2 separate regions of the Homo sapiens genome follow, and region 1 is linked to region 2. A link means that fine-mapping ties the variant in region 2 to the expression of a gene that starts in the linked region. Tissue or cell type: monocytes after LPS. Region 2 holds a variant in brackets; the other region holds the start of a gene. All regions are shown on one strand. Distances are between the middles of the regions.

Region 1 (8,000 bases), 150 kb before region 2:
TTTTCTTCCCTTTTCTCCCCATTATTTAGTATATATTTTTATTTTGAGGCTAGAATTCAGGGTATGATGCAACTGACCTGGTTTAGTAGTGGGTGTCAGACAGGAGAGGGTCACTGGAGCAGGGCGCAGACAGGCTCTCCTCCTTATTCTAAGCATTGCATAAAGTCTTTGAATTTTCTTCCTCAAGAAATAGGAAGCAATATTTAAATCTTCAGTTTATAATAAAAAGCCTAGGGGTACAGAAAGCTACTTCATATCACATTGTAGGAAATTATTCCTGCCTCCTTCACACTCCCTACACACTAACTGTGCTCATCTGACATTGATAACAAGACGCCTTGTACTTTGTATACTTGCAGTGTGGTTTGCACACATTCAAAGAGCATCTGTTAGTCTCTTTTGGAACACTGAAATGATTATACACATACATAACAATGAGTTGTGTCATTTATCATCTCTGAAGGTGAAGAAACCATTCTTTCATTCTCTCATTAATTAATCCATTTATCAGATTAGCATTAGTTACTTACTAGTGCCCAGTACTATTGCTAGGCCATGAAAGGCATATGAAGAAAAGTAAGTTATGGTCATTAAGAGGCATTTATAGAAGGTAGTTATAGATAAGATGGCATTGTGATTAGATAATTAATTTTACAACATCACATATAGTTGGCCAGTATAGATGTTAAATGGTGAAAGAATAACTGGCTGCCTGCGGAATATTGTATTTATCTATGAATTTATGTTTGTTATGGTAAGCTCTTTGTAGATATACCTAAGTAATATGTCAAGGAATACATCATCAACCTTTCTCTGAATTTTAGATACATCTCAGCTTGGTTTGTATAAAAAAGGAAGAAACATTTCACCAATTAGACAAGATTGAGAGATATTGTATGGAGTGAAATATTTGAAATTTTGGTCAGTTGCATTTGGTCTGACACATTTTAGACTCTGATTTACAGTTTTGACTTTAGAAAGGAAAAGAGGTATGATGTTGTGAATGCGATATGTGTAAATAAGAATTTTTTAAAAAATTACATCACTGACATGTATGTGAGCCGAAGAGTTTGGGCTGAACATACTTGTGACAAATTAGTAGAAAAATCAGCTTAAGTTTTCTTAGTATATCACACACTGATAACATAATGTGAAATTTGCTGCATTCCACTATTTGTACTACTCAGGAAAGTAAAATGGAAATTTTCCATTTTACACATTTAGTTCCCCCCTTAAAGTTGGCAAACACTAACTTTTTCCACTGCATTTCTACGTAACTGGACTGTTGCCAGCTCGTGTGTGTGTGTGTGTGTGTGTCTGTGTTTTAATAGCTAGGCATACTATCACTGGTGCTATTAGCTCAACTTATCTGTATTTTGGGGTTCAAATTTGTTTCTTTTCACGGACACTTTGTGGGAGGAGGAATCTGATCATAGTTCTTTGCAAGTTTGTAAGTGGTTTACTGTCAGAGCACTCAGGGTGACTCAAATAGCAGTTCTGAAGTTTTGCTGTCAGGATGTTCCTTCGGGAGAGTTTCATTGCTGTGAGACAGTGGATGTTCCTATTTTGTACTCTAGCTTTGAGTGAGCTGCTTGCTATGCAGGACTTATGCCTTCTGTGCCCCTTTTGATGCTGATTCCTATACTTGAAATGGTCTCCTTTGCTTATCACTTCTCTACTCATTCTTTGAAGTCCAGCTCAAACAGCCAAGCTACTCCATGTCACATTGCAGGAAATTATTCCTGCCTCCTCCACACTCCCTACAAACTTCATTGTGCTCATCTAACACTGACCACAAGATGCTTTGCACTTTATACACCTGCAATATGTTTTATACACATTCAAAGAGCATGCACAATTATTCTGTAGTACAGTAATGTTGATTGAACTTGGGGCTTCTAAACTGGCATACTTGGCTCTGTCTCTGACTCTCTTTAACTGTTTACTGAGCTTCAACTTCTTTGCTTCTAAGTAGGAGATTATTCATAGCCACATCATACATTTGATTTGAGAATTAGATGAGGTAATATATGCAAAGAGTCCCCATTTCTTGAGGGTTTGCTACAACTAAGACACTGGGCAAAAAGTTTTCTGTAATATCCTCCCATATACAATGCCTACAAGTGTTAATTCCTTTAGTCCCAATACTTGGACAGAGTGTGTACTCACTGAATATTTCTCTGATGAATGAGAACTGGACTGGAGCTGGCAGCAGGGGCCTGTCTGCTGAGTCAGCTGCCCTGAGTCAGCGGTTGAGGCACATACAACACTGGTCTCTAGAGAGGGAAGATACTGACTGGGCTGCAGTTCCCACCTATCTGGCTGAAGGGCTGCCAGAGTATGATTCCTAAGCACGATGGAGAGCTCATGGGTAAGGGAGAGTATCATTTTGGAACTACATGATTTCCTTTCTCACTGTCTCTCATTACCACCCTCCCTCACCCCTGCTGACCAATTCAGCCCAGAAGAGGTACAGATCTCATTCTGAGTCATTCCAGGGTTGTACTGGTACAAGAACAACTGCATTTTTACTATAACCCATGGAATATAAGAACATTGCAGATCTACATTCTTGGCCAGAAAAAAAAAAAAAGAAAAAAATTCAACCAAAGCACTATACCTCTTCAGTGGTAAATATTTTAGGAATGTTAGAGGTTCATGAAAATCACACCTAAATAAAATGACATTCCCACTCTTGGGCTCTTATAAATGAAGAGATTTTGGGGATCTCCAGGTTGATGACTCCTAACTTTCCCAGTGTTTTTTTCCATGAGCTATTGATTAAAGTTGGGTGTAGCACTATATTTTTTTCTCTTCCAGCTAAGCTGTTCCCATCATTTGGGAAGTTTTAGAAGCTTCTGCAAGCCCCTAGGATACCATTCTATGCATCAAAACCATTGTATTTAAAATGATATTTGAGGGACATTGGAAAGGTTTTTTGCAGTCTCCACCCAGGCTTGTCTTGCTCCTGGGAAGCAGTTGTACAGCACAAGAATCTGATGAACAGAAGTTCCCATGATGCATTGAAGGGTTAGTGTTGCCATCTTGCTCTGTTCCTTAAGGCTGGAGTTAATGAGGAAGAGTTTTTATGTGAATGTCAGGCATGTTGCAATAACTAGCCACAATGGAATAGTCATGGCAATTTCCACCACTTGGTTTCTTTGTTTTTGTGATGTTGCTGCATGCTTCATTTTATGAGTATTTTCTTTTCTTACGTGTGGTTGAGCCCATCTATTGCCATCTTGGGCTTGAATACTTGTATTTAAAAGAGATGAACAGAGAGAAACTGGAAAACTGACAGAATGACATATCCTGACCTCTTACTATTTTTCATCCCCTACTTCTGCTGACAAATATTCTGATGAGTTTGTGTCCCAAGGTGAAGGAAAAGAAAAGAAAAAGTACTGTGGAAACCAGGCTTCTTTTGGTTATGTTAATATCATGGATACAGACCAAGCCTAGTAGTATTCCCACTGAAATTAGATAAATGAAAACTGCCAATAGTCTTTTAGTTTTGGCTTTCTGGGGTAAGTCATTTGTGTCCTTGAGGACTTCTGTCTTGATCAAAGCATCTACTACCTGATTGCTAATTTATATTGGAGTGGTAACAGTAGAATAGAATATAAGGACTTGTGAAATTCTAAGTGTCTGGTGGCATCCTCACTCATTTCATTCATGATGGTGAATAATACTGTCAACTGCAGAAAGGCCTACCTGGAGGATATTGTGTGCATTACATACCTAGATTCCCAAGATGGAAGTCCTTGCATCTGTGGCAATACATGTGATGAACTACTAGGAGCAGACTTTCTTGTAACAACCTTTTGAGGGCTCTGGTCAACACAAGCAGAAGCGGTGGCGAGTCAGAGCTTAGGTGGGGTATGAGGCTGAGGATGTTGAATTCATAAGGATAAAGTGCCACTTTATAGACGTAACATACGCAGGGAATATACCTCCATTCTTAACAGCCTGTGTTCAGAATTTTATACCCTTCTAACACTTCCATCACCTTCCTCTCTTCCCTGCCTATACTTGGAAAGGATGCCAAAGCCTTCCTTAGTGCTTCACCTATCCAGTTTCGAAGCTGTCATGTGCATCCGATCCGATATTTCAAAGCAACCCTTTTGCCATTTTTCACTGTGTTATTCTCTCCGTATTACTACCGGATTTTTTTGGTTGTTTGTTTATTTTTTTATGACCTGACATCAAATCCTGTCTAAACACTAACACTTTTTCATGTTAAAATAAGTCAGTTTAACAAATAAGGCCAGGAAGAAGGCGAAGTGTCTCCCTGCTGTTACCCTGTTCTGGAGTTCCTCGACTTCTGGCGCACGGGGAGTGTGTGTGTGTGTGTGTGTGTGTGTGTGTGTGTGTGTGAATGCGTCAAGAGGGAGACACAAGCTCGGCCTTCGAATTGGCCAGCCTAGTGACCCGCGAGCCCGCCCCCACTCTTCCCCCTCCCCCTCCGGCGCTCACACTCAGGAAGCAGCTGGCTACAGGCCGGCCCTCGCGGCCGCACACACATCCACACTCCTCGCCCGGCTGCCTTCCTCCCTCCCTCTTCCCCCTTCCCCTCTCCCTGCAGCCGCGTCCACACTGCGCCGCCCGGGCAGCCCAGAGCGCGGCGCGCACGGGCACCGGCGGCGAGTGCCGCGGCCACTGCCCCTCCCGGGACCCCCTGTACGCCGTCCGCGCCGTCCAGGGTCACACCGGCGACGGAACCCGCCGGCAGCAATTAGCCAGCATCCCGGGGTCGGCCCCCAGAAGCATTCCCCGGCCCAGGACGAGGATGAACAGGACAGGCGAGGCACAAAGTCGCAACTGAACTTTTTAGAAACATTATTTGTGTGTGTATGTGTGTAGCAGGGGAGAATGAGCTGATGCCGAGGGTCCAGCCACCCCGCCTCTGCCTCCTCCTCCCCCTGCCGCCGCTGCCCTCGCAGACGCGCGCGCACACACGGCACTTGGGCCGGGTTTCCGCGCTCCGTCCCCCCGTTTGGATGGGGGTTTTCATTTCCGAAGGAGGCACAGCCCGCGGAGCGCTCTGAAGGGCTGGAGCCCCAAGTTACTCCTCGCCAGCGCCGGCCGCCCGCTGTCACTCGCGCTGGCCGGCCGGGGGAAGGGACCCGCACGCCGGGCTTTGTTGTGGAAATCCCGGTTACCTGGTAAGTGGATGCCATAGGAACTTTGCTCGCAGGCGAGAGACGAGGAGAAACCGGGCGCTTGAGAGTGTGGGGGAGTTAAAGCTCAGAGACGCAAACTAGGGATTACAAATAGTTTTCTACGCTGAGCCGGTGGCGTTCGCGCGGGTTTAAGGATACGCGCACCTCAACTCCCGGCGTCACAGGTCACTGAGAGACCTGCGCTGACTGAGACTGATAGCAACAATTAGGGTTCAAACCATGTTTCTGTCAGTGGCCTAAGAGCGCCCAGTGTAGAAGACAGATAACGGGGCTTTAAAGTTGCGCTAATTCGGAACAGTTTTTGTGTTTTCATTTCAAGTAGAGCGGGCAGAGGGGTACACAATCAGGGCACGTTACAGGACGCACGGGCATGGGGCGCACCACTCTGGAGTCCCCACTGAAGGGAAACTTTGGCGAAGTGGGAACTGATGGGGTGACGTGAGGTCTCTCGCGCACACGCGGGGCTGTAGTTGTCTTTTCAAGTTCCACGTGTTTGTGGAGTTTCACGAAGGCTGTTTTCCACGCCTGTGTCTCATCCAAGCCGGTGTCCCCATGATTGCGGGAGGTGGTCGGGCTGAGGGTACCTACACTCCTCGCGGGTACCGGCCCGGCGATCCGCAGCCGCCAGGTCTGGAACTATAACCTCCCACGCCGCCAGGACGCAGACACAGCCAGACACGAACCCTCCCCGCCGGGTTCGTCACCTCGCGTTTACATTTTTTATGGGGCCCGACAAAATGTCAGCACTGTTTGGAAAATGTCTCAGTCTCGGAGACGTTGTCCTGCGCGCGGCTCCAGTCCCTATAAATGACCCTGTGTGTATTTTGAAGTCGGCCCGGGTCGCTCTCTGGAAAGCGTGAGTGAGCCGCCGGCTCTCTCCTAGACACACACCTTGCCCCGAGCGACAGTTCCAAGTTACTCACTGGAGCTGACAAGTCACCTCGGGGACCGGGAAGTCACTCAAGTGTCTGGAAATCTTGGCCCTGGCTGATTTGTCATCCTATGGATGATTCAATTAGGTACCTGGCGGGAGAAACTTTGGGGAAGGGTTTCTGGCTCCGCGTTCGCGCCCTCCGACTTGCTGGAGGTGTTTGGGAGGCGAGAAGCGAAAGGAAACCACAGGGTGAGGACACTGGCTCGGCGGGGACCGGGGGGCCGGCGTGGGGGGACTGCGAGCCCGGCCGTGGCGCCCCCGGGCTACAGGCTCCGGCCAGGCCGGGCAGCGCGCGCAGGTCCCCGGCGCCCGGGCTTCCCAGCCGCAGCACCCTTTCGGCCCCCGACTCACTCAGGAGCGAGTTGCACAACAGGAAGCCGGCACTAGTTTGTTTTGTTGCGCTGCGTTCGCTCCCTCGCTCGCTCGCGCACGGGGCCGAGGGTTAGGGGCGGAGGCGGCGGGGGAGTGACGGGGTCGCAGCCGCGCGTACCCCGCCGGGCGCTGTCGCCTCCGCCTCCGGACCCGCCCCTAGCTCCGCGCCGAGGAATCTCCGACCCCGGCAGCGAAGCCAGTCCTATAGGGAACCGATAAGGGCCGCCCTCCTCCTGCCTTGTCCTACGCGCCTCTCCCCCGCTCCCGGCACCTCTCCCGACTTCTCCAGCCCTCCTCTTGGCAGGAGTGGTCTCGAGGACTGAGACCACTGCTCTGTGTGCCTCCTTGAGCCCCACGCTAGTTTGCCCCGGTATCCGCTTGGCCCTCATCTCTGGAGCATGTAAACCTGGGGAAGGGGTAGGGAGGTGCTTCCGGAATCACAGGGAGTAGGGTCCGTAGAGACAGGACTCGTGGAGTCGCGGCCCCGTTTCACAAAGAGGGTTGCTCTTGCACCCTCTCCCCGAGCCGGCAGAACCAACTTCCTCCAAGACTTCAGCATCTCCCGAGAGTTGGGGCCCCAGGGCCCTGGAGTTTGTGAGAAGAGGGAAGTTCTGCAGCTCCCCCCAGTGGACCAGGTCCCTTTAGTATGGGGCCGGGAATCTCGAGGAGAGACTATTAAAGCTAGAGTGGACCCTGGCTTCACCTGATGAGGAAACCGAGCCCCAGAGACGTTAGAGGTTTTGCCCAAGGCCTCACAGCCAGTTGTCGCAGACCCTTAAAGTTCTCAGGTCCCGGTTAAGAGAGCATTTCTTGGCTCGAAGATGACCTCAAGACAAATGCAAAGTCTGGTTCTGTCCCCTCTGAAAGCTTTGATGAGTCATGATTTCTGCCTTGGGAGTAAGCCAGACTTCTGTTTCACCCTCTGTCTTGTTCCTCACTGGACCTCCCTTTTTAGACTAAACTTTTTTTTTTTTTTGGGTACAAAATCGACTTGTGTTGGTTTAAACCTTCCTACTTCTTCTCTTTTATCTCCTCCTAGTTTGTTTCCGCTGGTTCTGTGTGAAGCAGGTGCAACCTGTAAAGGTTTGCAGAAAAAGAATCCGCCACGATGAAGGTCGTTCTGAGAAAGTTTGAAGCAATTTAGACAGGAGAGTGTTAGATTATATGCATTTTTTTTTTTTTTTTTTTTTTTTGCAATTGAGAACAAGCTGAGGTGTAAGGATCATCTATAACCGTACTGCAGTTTTCATTTATTTTCACTGGTCATCTGCGCAGCCAGACTAGCTCTGAGGCTACCTTTGAAAGGAAGTGTAGGGGACATTTTTTTTTCGCTATTTTCAAAACACCTGTCCTTATTGGTAGTTTGTAATTGCTTTCTTTTCTTGCCCAGAAGACTCAGTAATCCTTGAGTATGAGTAGATCAATTTAAGTGCTGCTGTTAACTTCTCCCCTTGGTTCACCTTAGGCCAGTTTGGGGACAGCATCGTTGATCCCCTGATTCCACTGAAGTT
Region 2 (8,259 bases):
GGTTTGAATGGCCGTAGAAAAATATTGTGTTACTTGTTTGTTGTCTAGGTGAGATATGAGACTGGGAGGGTTTGAGGTTCTGGTTTTTTCATACAAGACCTGTGCAAACTGGAGATCCCATAAATATTTGTTGAATAACATTGAATTTTACGTGATGTTTTTATGTCTTCTCATTCTTTTTTATGAGAGTCCTTTGGGTAAGAGTTGAGCCCAAGGAGGACTGAGGGTCTCAACCTCAAATGCCCTTCATTCTGTCGCCTTCCAAAGGTTCTCTCCTGCTGTGGAAGGTATGAGTATGTTTAACTAGGAACAGATGATTATTATGCTTCATTACCAGGCATGGTCTCTGTGCCACAGGACTCTATCCAAACTCATAGACATAATGAAGAGCGCTTTCATTGTTTAGGACTCCTGAAGGCAGATTTTTTCCTTAGAACAAAGATGAAGAAAGGCCACAATCCAAAGAAATCCCCTCAGTGCAAAACTGTGAACTGGACAATTGTTCTGCAGTTATTTTGCCAAGAAATAATAGCCTTAGAGCCCCACTTACTGCTTGTAAACTTTCTTTGAGAAGAGAATCTTTAAAAAAATTATGCTGTCAAGTTCCATATGCTTAAATTAGACTTTCCCCCTTTCTAAGCAAGGTGCTTGCTCTCCCTGAGCAGTCTGAATGTTGGTTCAGTGGCAGATTTACATTTGGTGGATGAATAAGCAGGCACTAGTTCTAATAAAACCTGTGGTTTAGCTGTGTTTCTGCTAAAACATATAGTTTGAGGAGATAGAGGCAAACTCAAACTGAACCTCTTTTTAAAAATGTAACAATCTGATTTCTTTTTTCTCCTGAAGAGTCATACATTTTGTCTGATCTGGGAGAATGCAGGCTTTTGTATCTTCTAGGCTCAAAGACACTTGGAAGAGAGAAGTCTCTGGTGGCGTTTTCAGATTCAACCTGTGGACTGAAACAGAGTCGATCTCTAGGCACAGTTGTTAAGTAGGCATCTCTATGTCGCTTTTCATCCTGATCTCCTCCTCTGTGCTTACCCCTTTTTTTCCTTCAGCTCTTCATCTCTTCATGGACGCTCCTGTCCCCAACCCAATGCTCATTGTGTAGGAGTCGATCATCTGCCATCTTCACTCTATTTTGAAGGCAAAAGACATTTTTAACTGCCTCAGAGGTATTTGCATCATTAAGCACCATTTATAACTGACAGCCCCAAAAAAGTAGTAGGATACATTAGAAAGTGGGTTTAGTTGGGTGCCCAAGTACTTGGATTTTTGTCCTGATGCTGCCATTAACTAGCTGTGTGACCGGGTGAAAGTCACTTTACATCTCTGGACTTGAATTTTACAATTTATAAAATAAGGAGGTTGGACACATGATTTCTAATCTTCCTTCTTGGCATCTAAATCTATGAATTCAAAGCATGGTGGGGGCAGAGATACATCTTTTTCTTATGAGGGAAACCCTTGAAATTGTTTCATCATCTATTCTGGTTTAAAGATAGTCTTTTAAGATATGAGAGAGTAAAGGTTTTCTGATGTGATTTGCAGATGGGAAGAGGAATCGATATTTTCTGAGCATTTGGTTTGTGCCAGGCTGTGTGCTAGATGGTATGTGATCTTACCAGGCTGAATGTGGTGATTTGGCTGAGCTTGCCACAGACTGAACTTGGCCTCCTGGCCTGCGACTTTGCCCTGGCATAGATTCCTCTTGCCTCCATATGGCTGGCCCCATCTACCTACAAATTTACGTTTTCCTCCTCCTTATGTGAATATTTTTATTGGTTAGTAAAAGCAGAGGACAGTCAGTGGCTGGTTGGACTCTGCTTTTAGGTCAGTCCAGTTGTGTAAGATCAAAGTTTGGGCTACTGAGGCAGAATTTTAGAAAAGACCCCCTTTCAGCTTTATTTTTGTTGTTTTTAAGGTAGGTTGGTTTCTAGTAGAAAGGGGCCCTATAAAAGCTTTGGGTCTGTATGGGAGGTTGCTTCTCTGGGGAAGCTCTTCTTTACCTTTTATTGTACCAGATTCACTGTGAAATTATCTTTGTGCTCATCTGTGTGTGTGTGTTTATGTGTGCATGCGTGCACCCGCACGTGCATTATGTTCTTATATTCCTAACATATATCCGTATGAACTGTGCGCATTCAAGACTCTTCGTGAATAAAAAGTTAGTAAATCCCTTTTGTAGTAAGATATATGCAAGTGCAGATAAGATACTTCATATCTTGTTTCTAAATATCACCATCATTATCATCATCGTCATCTCCTTCTCTGTGTCTCAGTAGCTTTTTTATCCTACCTTATTTTACCAGACATTATTTTGTGCTGTGATTCTCTTGATCTCTGTTTCACCTGCTCCTACCATGCAGTTTTTAACTCCTGAATGAGTGAGATAACAAATGAATTTCATGTTATGCATCAAAAATTCCTGAAAGTAAAAGGGGTTATGTAATAGACACTTAACCACTGCTTTAAAGGTTAGACTAGTGTCATCTATTTGTACTTGCATGCCTGACACCATTTATGGTACCTACACAGAATAAATTAAGGTGTCATGCCTGACTATTGCTTATATATGGAAACCAAGAGGTTGGAGGCTCCGCGTGAGTGTGAGTTCCAGCTTTGGGAGAAGAATGACAATTGTCCTGTGTTCTCTCCATCTAGGAGTATTTGTCCAGTTATGTGGGAGGTGATGGTTAAGGGAATATGAATGAACTCATAGCCATCTGTGTGTGTTTTTTGAGTTGGGCTAGCTGGGGTTTGAATACTCACTCTTAGCAGGTTAATATGGTCTTCAAGCCTTAGTTTTCCTCCCCTGTGAAATGGGATGGTAATAATCAAGGTTGTTGTGGGAGCTAAATGAGTTAATCTGGGAATAGAGCTAGGCATCCTCCTCTGGCACCAAGTAAGCCTTCCATTAAGCTTACTTTAACTTTCACTTCATTTTTAATGTATAGATGAATCACTATCATTATTATTCTTAGTAGCAGTAGTAGTAGCAGCTGTAATAGTACAAGTTCTTGGTGAGGAAGCATGATCACCATGTTGATAGCTAGGTAAACTCTGCACCTCCTTTGGAGTATTTGGAGAGGAGACAGAGGTTTGTTATAATCTTGTTTCCACGGAGGGCTTCATGGGAAAGGTGAGAAGTCAAACAGTTTGGAAAAGGTTCTGTTGATAGGGACGAGCTTTGTGTGCAGTGAGGTGTGGAGTCAGCCTGTGGAGGAGAGAGGAGAATGGGTTAGGAATGGCCAGGACAACAAAGTGGCAGCTCTGGCCACGTTACCCCCACTCCAGGCTTCTCAGCAATTTCTCTGTTTATTTTATTTTTATTTTTCCCCTTATTTTAAATTATACAATCCCACCCTCCTTGTAGCCCTCTCTCCACCTACCTGTG[C/G]AAAGAAGTTCTTTACTAAAACTTGCTACAGGTATGGTGTGGGCATTACCTGTTCATAGGCATTAGGAAGCTGAGGCCTAATATTCTGGGGTGATGGGTAGGGGTCCAGGTGGATTAGGTACAGTCCCTGTCCTCATGGGCCTGCCAGTTTAGGGGGAAAGGTGAGATATAGATACATGAGGTAGAATTGATCCACAGCACAAAAGACAAATGAATAACTATGTGGGAGTTTAGAGGAGGAATAGAGCACTGTAAACCTGGCATTGGAGGAAGGAATATGGAAGGTTTCTTTCAAGGAGGAGGTAGCATTTGAGCTGATCTTTGAGGATGGAAATATGGAGAGTATGGGGACGTGGGGATGTGGTGACCAGGGATTTCAGGCTGCCTGGAGTGGAGTATGTCTGAAAGAACCATAGTGGTGAATTCAGGCTGAAATCAAACTCCTGTGAGTGTAGCAAGGAAACCGATGTAGCCAGATCTCATCTAGAATCAGCAATAATTAGTAAGAGTTTTCCTGAAGCTATTTTTGCTATAATAAGAAAAAGGGGGGAGGGATTAAGAGCTCAAGCATTCCTGGTGTTCAAGTTAAATGTTAACTCCTTTGTGTAGTTAACCAGTAACTTACTCTTTCCTATGCAAAAGAAAAAAAAGGAGAGGGAGAAACATAATACAGTGGTAACCACCTCACTTCAAAAAATCCTGGTTTGCTAATGTGTTTGCTTATTTTCAACATAATACATACGTAGCTATTATAGAGATGTGTGCAAAATGAAACAGCCGACAGTAAGTTGACTTACCTTTGTGAATTCCCTGGATGTCTTCTGCAGGGTTTGCAGAGTTAGCTATTTTCAGACACATCCCTAGTTTAGCCATTAGAATGTTATAATTTTTTTTTTTTTTTTGGTATGAACTCAGCAAGTGAAACTTTGCTTCCAGAAAGGTGGGTGGGTGAGTTCACCCACCTGCTCTGACCCAGGCAAGTTAATGACCTGCCCAAGTATTGTTCGCGCTGGCCAGCGCTGGCTGACTTCACCAGCAGTTCCCCTTGAAGGGAGTCATTGTTTCTTACTCTGCATTTGTCAGATGCTTTCCTCTCTGCACTCCAGCCTTTGCTGAATGTCCTGGCAGTTCCTGAATGTTCCTGCTGCCTGCATTTTATAAAACCAAAGAGCAAGTAGCCCTGGAAATGTATGCCAAGTACTCTGCACAGCTGTCTGAGGCCCCCAGCCAAGGGCAAGATATAAACAATCTATACCCACACAGGTACACAAGCAGACACTGCATATGGAAGCCCCGCAGTGCAAGGACTTCTTACTTCTAACACTTTAAAATGTCAGTGGCCAAACAGCCTGAGAACATGAATAATTTAAGCATGAGATGCTTTTGCTGATGATTTTGATCATTTTTCAGGAAGAATAATGGTAAGAAATTTGTTAAGAAATTCCAAATTGAAATTCCATTATTGAAATTCCAATAATAGAATGGAGGTACGTGAAGGAAGAGGACTAGGAATTTTAGAATTTGTATTTGCTGTAAGAAATTAAAATATAGTATGACGTTGAACTTTCAGAACTTCTTAGGATATTGCCTGCATAATGTTCAATTTGGGGAAGAAATGAATGGCCAGAGGAGATTAATTGCAGTGGGCTTAAATTTCTAAATGTCAGGTGCTAGGTCAGGGTGGCTAGAAAATTAGAGGCATACGGTGAAATGCCTTTAATTTGGTATAAGATCTAGTGCATTTGACTCTAAAGATGCTTTGGGACAATCAAATTGAGAAATAATAGCAAGATAGTTTTTAAAAGTCGAACGTAATACTCTTCAGAATGAGTGTCAAATAAAATCCAGTACATTGGTTCTGGCCTGTTTTAAATGAATAGCTCTTGTAGCATCCTTCCTCTTTGCTGTGTTTATCTAGAGAACTGTTTAATTTTTATTAGTAGGCTAATTCTTGCATTAAAGACATAAATTGCATATTTAGGATGGAGAATAGGCGTTTGAGATGAAGTTTATTCAGGGTTCTGTCCCTACTGCTGAAAAATCTAATTCACTGCTGAGTGGATCGTAACTGCAGTTGCTAATTTAAAAATCAGTTCGCCAGATTCCAGTGACTTTGATAAGACTTTTATTCTTTTCAATCTTATGTATTTGTGAGCACATACTTGGGAAGATTGCTGCTGAGTAGTGTTGCATGTCAGAGATGAGGACAGTTTAGTCATTAACCCTAAATTGAGGGTAAAGACTGGCAATAGGCAGCCTGTGGAATGAGGAAAGGGCCAAGTTGAAATATTTCCAAAAGGTATTTTTGTTGTTTACCCTTGTTAATTATTAATACTAATTATTGATGAAAAATAGTTTTGAGTTACATGCCACACATTGTTTAGGAATAAATTATCAAATTTCTTATCTAGAACTATAGTAGATATTCAACGGTTTCAAATAATCGATATTTATTAAGTTAGTAAGGTGTCCCCCCTTCCTTCAACATTAAAGACACAAATCCATAAAGTTCTGGTGCATAAAGACTTTGTTTCATGAAAGTGCACTTTCCTCCCAGCTTTGGGTAGCTTCTTGCACTAAATGAATATGTTAAGAACTGAATTTGACAAAATCAGGTCAATAATTAAAAAGTATCTTTAGAACAAAGTACCTATCTCATGTAAGACATGTAGATAATATATAGGTTTTATAGGTTAAAATTGCCAAATTAGTTATGAATGTTGTGCTTTGTCTCAATTGTCCATGCCTTTTCAGATTTGTACTTTTTTGTCATGTTAGTTTCTTGGAAATGACCTTTTTAGGAATTTCTATATTTTGTAGTTTATCATACAGGCTTAAATGAAGTATATTGTTTAAATTCTACTGAGCGGGTATGCACTTCCCAGAGAAGATTACTCTCTCTGGGAGTCAGAACTGGCTGATACTAAAGGAGAGAGAGGGAGAGAAAGGGAGAAAGTGAGGGAGGGAGGGGGAACAAAGGGAGGAGGGAAGCTGGCAGGAAGAGAAGGGGAGGAAGGGAGAGGAAAGAGAGGGAAGTTTGAGATGTTAGGTCCCTCTGACAGAGGGCACTGATGTGACTTGGAGACTGCTCTCAGAGTCGGGCTGTAAAAGTCGGTGTTCATGCCTCTTAGGCATTATGGGCTTTTTGAATGTTATTAGATTCATTTTAGCCTCATTCTTAAGAACTGTGTGTTGCGATATCCTGTGGGCTTTGGTCATTTTTGGTTTTAGATCATGTTGTTCCAATCAATTGGTTGTACTATATGTATCACAGCAGTTGTGTGCAAAAGGTACTAGCCTTGGCAACCTAAAGATATGTTTGCTTATAGAAAATAACACACACAATTGAACCACCTTTGGGTGTAGTTTTTCATTTACCAGCGTGTTCTCCAGAGGTACCCTGTATTGATGTATTTTCCCAGTAGTGGGACGTTGTAGTATTGGCTTAAAAACCTTACCTAACAAGGAGTAAGTAGGCTGATCCTGGATCAGTTTATTTTCTCTGCCATCCCAAAGACTTGCCCACTGACCTCATCCATAGTGTGGTGTTTGGTCTATGAGCAGTTGATTCACCAGTTTTCAGAGCCCAAGTCTAAAATCACAGATCCTGTGGGGGATCTGGGAGCATCTGCCTTACCTTTATGAAGGTTATGGTCAGTTAAGCCTTGCTTTCAATGGGCTCACTTCGCTATGGGAAGAAAATTCTGCAGTTGTTAAAAACAAAAGGACACTGCCTTTTCCAAGGGAGCTGACAGCTATTGGTTTTTCCGGAGAGGATTACTGGTGAAGACAGTTATGAAGAACAAGTAACTCTTGTAAATAAACAGCATGTTCTTGCTTAAATATTTCCCAGAACAGTTCTAAAGAAATATAATACAGGTAAGTTTTGTTATGTTCTCATTGTGAGTTATGTTTACGAGAAGCAAAAAATAGGATTAGAATCATGGAGGAGGAAAAAAAGCCTTTTCATACCAGTGGCTTATGTTTTATTGAATTCTAACCATTTATAAAATTATCTGGTTTCTTGCCCCTACTCATGGTTGATTTTGTTTCTCTTTTTCCATCTAGAGACCTTTGAGTTATTTTTATTCATAAGTGAAAAATGTATTACAGCTTTATTTCCTTTTATTAATAGTTCCTTCTTGCCCTTAACCACATCTCTGACTTTTTGGCATGTAGAGTCCAATGAGCTCATGCTTAATCATGTATAAACAACCATCTAATTATATGGTTTTGAATTTTCATTTGACCGACTAAACAAAAATGACACAGAAACGAGAAACCTGACAACTTTCCTGTCTTCAGATACCTGGCCTTTTTTTCCCTCGCCCTCTCTTCATGCATTTAGTAAAATGCATGTTATAACCTATCAAAAAATATCACTTTGTATTTGCCAAGTTTCTGAGGTAAAATTGTTCTTTTCAAGGCTACGTGTCAAAAAACAAGTCGGTTGAGCTGAATTATCCGCCTTCTTTTCAGATCTCTTTCGGACTCTATTCTTTCCTCCTTTGGACGGAGGTGTTAGTAGCATTCCTTGCGCTGTGGTGTCAGATGACAGGACAGCATTTATGGAGCAAGGTTTCTCGATCTTTGTTCCCTTGCCTTCTCCCCTGAGGTCCAATAACAGCTCTCCCACTTGCCCTGTCGTCCCACCCTCCCCCAAACCATGCTGACACATTTTTGAAAGAAGATAATGGGAAAATCTTTCCATACTAAGGTGCTCACTATGTTTAAACAGGAAGGGAGACGTCGTCTATTCTCTTTTCTTTCTCACTGGCTTGATCCTAGAATTCTGAAGATGGTGGAAAATCTCTTTCAAACATTTAGATGGTTTCGCCATAGATAGTTCAGTGTGCTTGATA

Which allele goes with the higher level. Positions count from the first base shown, and alleles are read on the strand shown. Sizes are in standard deviations (SD) of each study's normalised expression.
In carriers of allele C in region 2, the expression in monocytes after LPS of the gene that starts at base 4,518 in region 1 tends to be higher than with G alone (moderate effect, 0.46 SD a copy in Fairfax 2014).

What was found. PIP is the estimated chance that this variant, and not a neighbour inherited with it, causes the effect.
Region 1: it holds the start of GLIS3, and the variant in region 2 is fine-mapped to the expression of GLIS3 in monocytes after LPS (Fairfax 2014, PIP 0.95).

The regions. Positions count from the first base shown.
Region 1 is chr9:4,296,586-4,304,585 of GRCh38, reverse strand. It overlaps GLIS3 (GLIS family zinc finger 3), which reads left to right and starts at 4,518. Exons shown (of 11, transcript NM_001042413.2): 1 at 4,518-5,165. It overlaps GLIS3-AS2 (GLIS3 antisense RNA 2), which reads right to left and starts at 5,285. Exons shown (of 4, transcript NR_186824.1): 1 at 5,163-5,285. RefSeq lists an enhancer at 7,223-7,517.
Region 2 is chr9:4,143,856-4,152,114 of GRCh38, reverse strand. The region is part of intron 2 of GLIS3 (GLIS family zinc finger 3); the gene reads left to right. Among named protein-coding and RNA genes, the nearest start is that of GLIS3-AS2, 150 kb to the left of the region's middle. The variant C/G (reference allele first, on the strand shown) is at 3,398.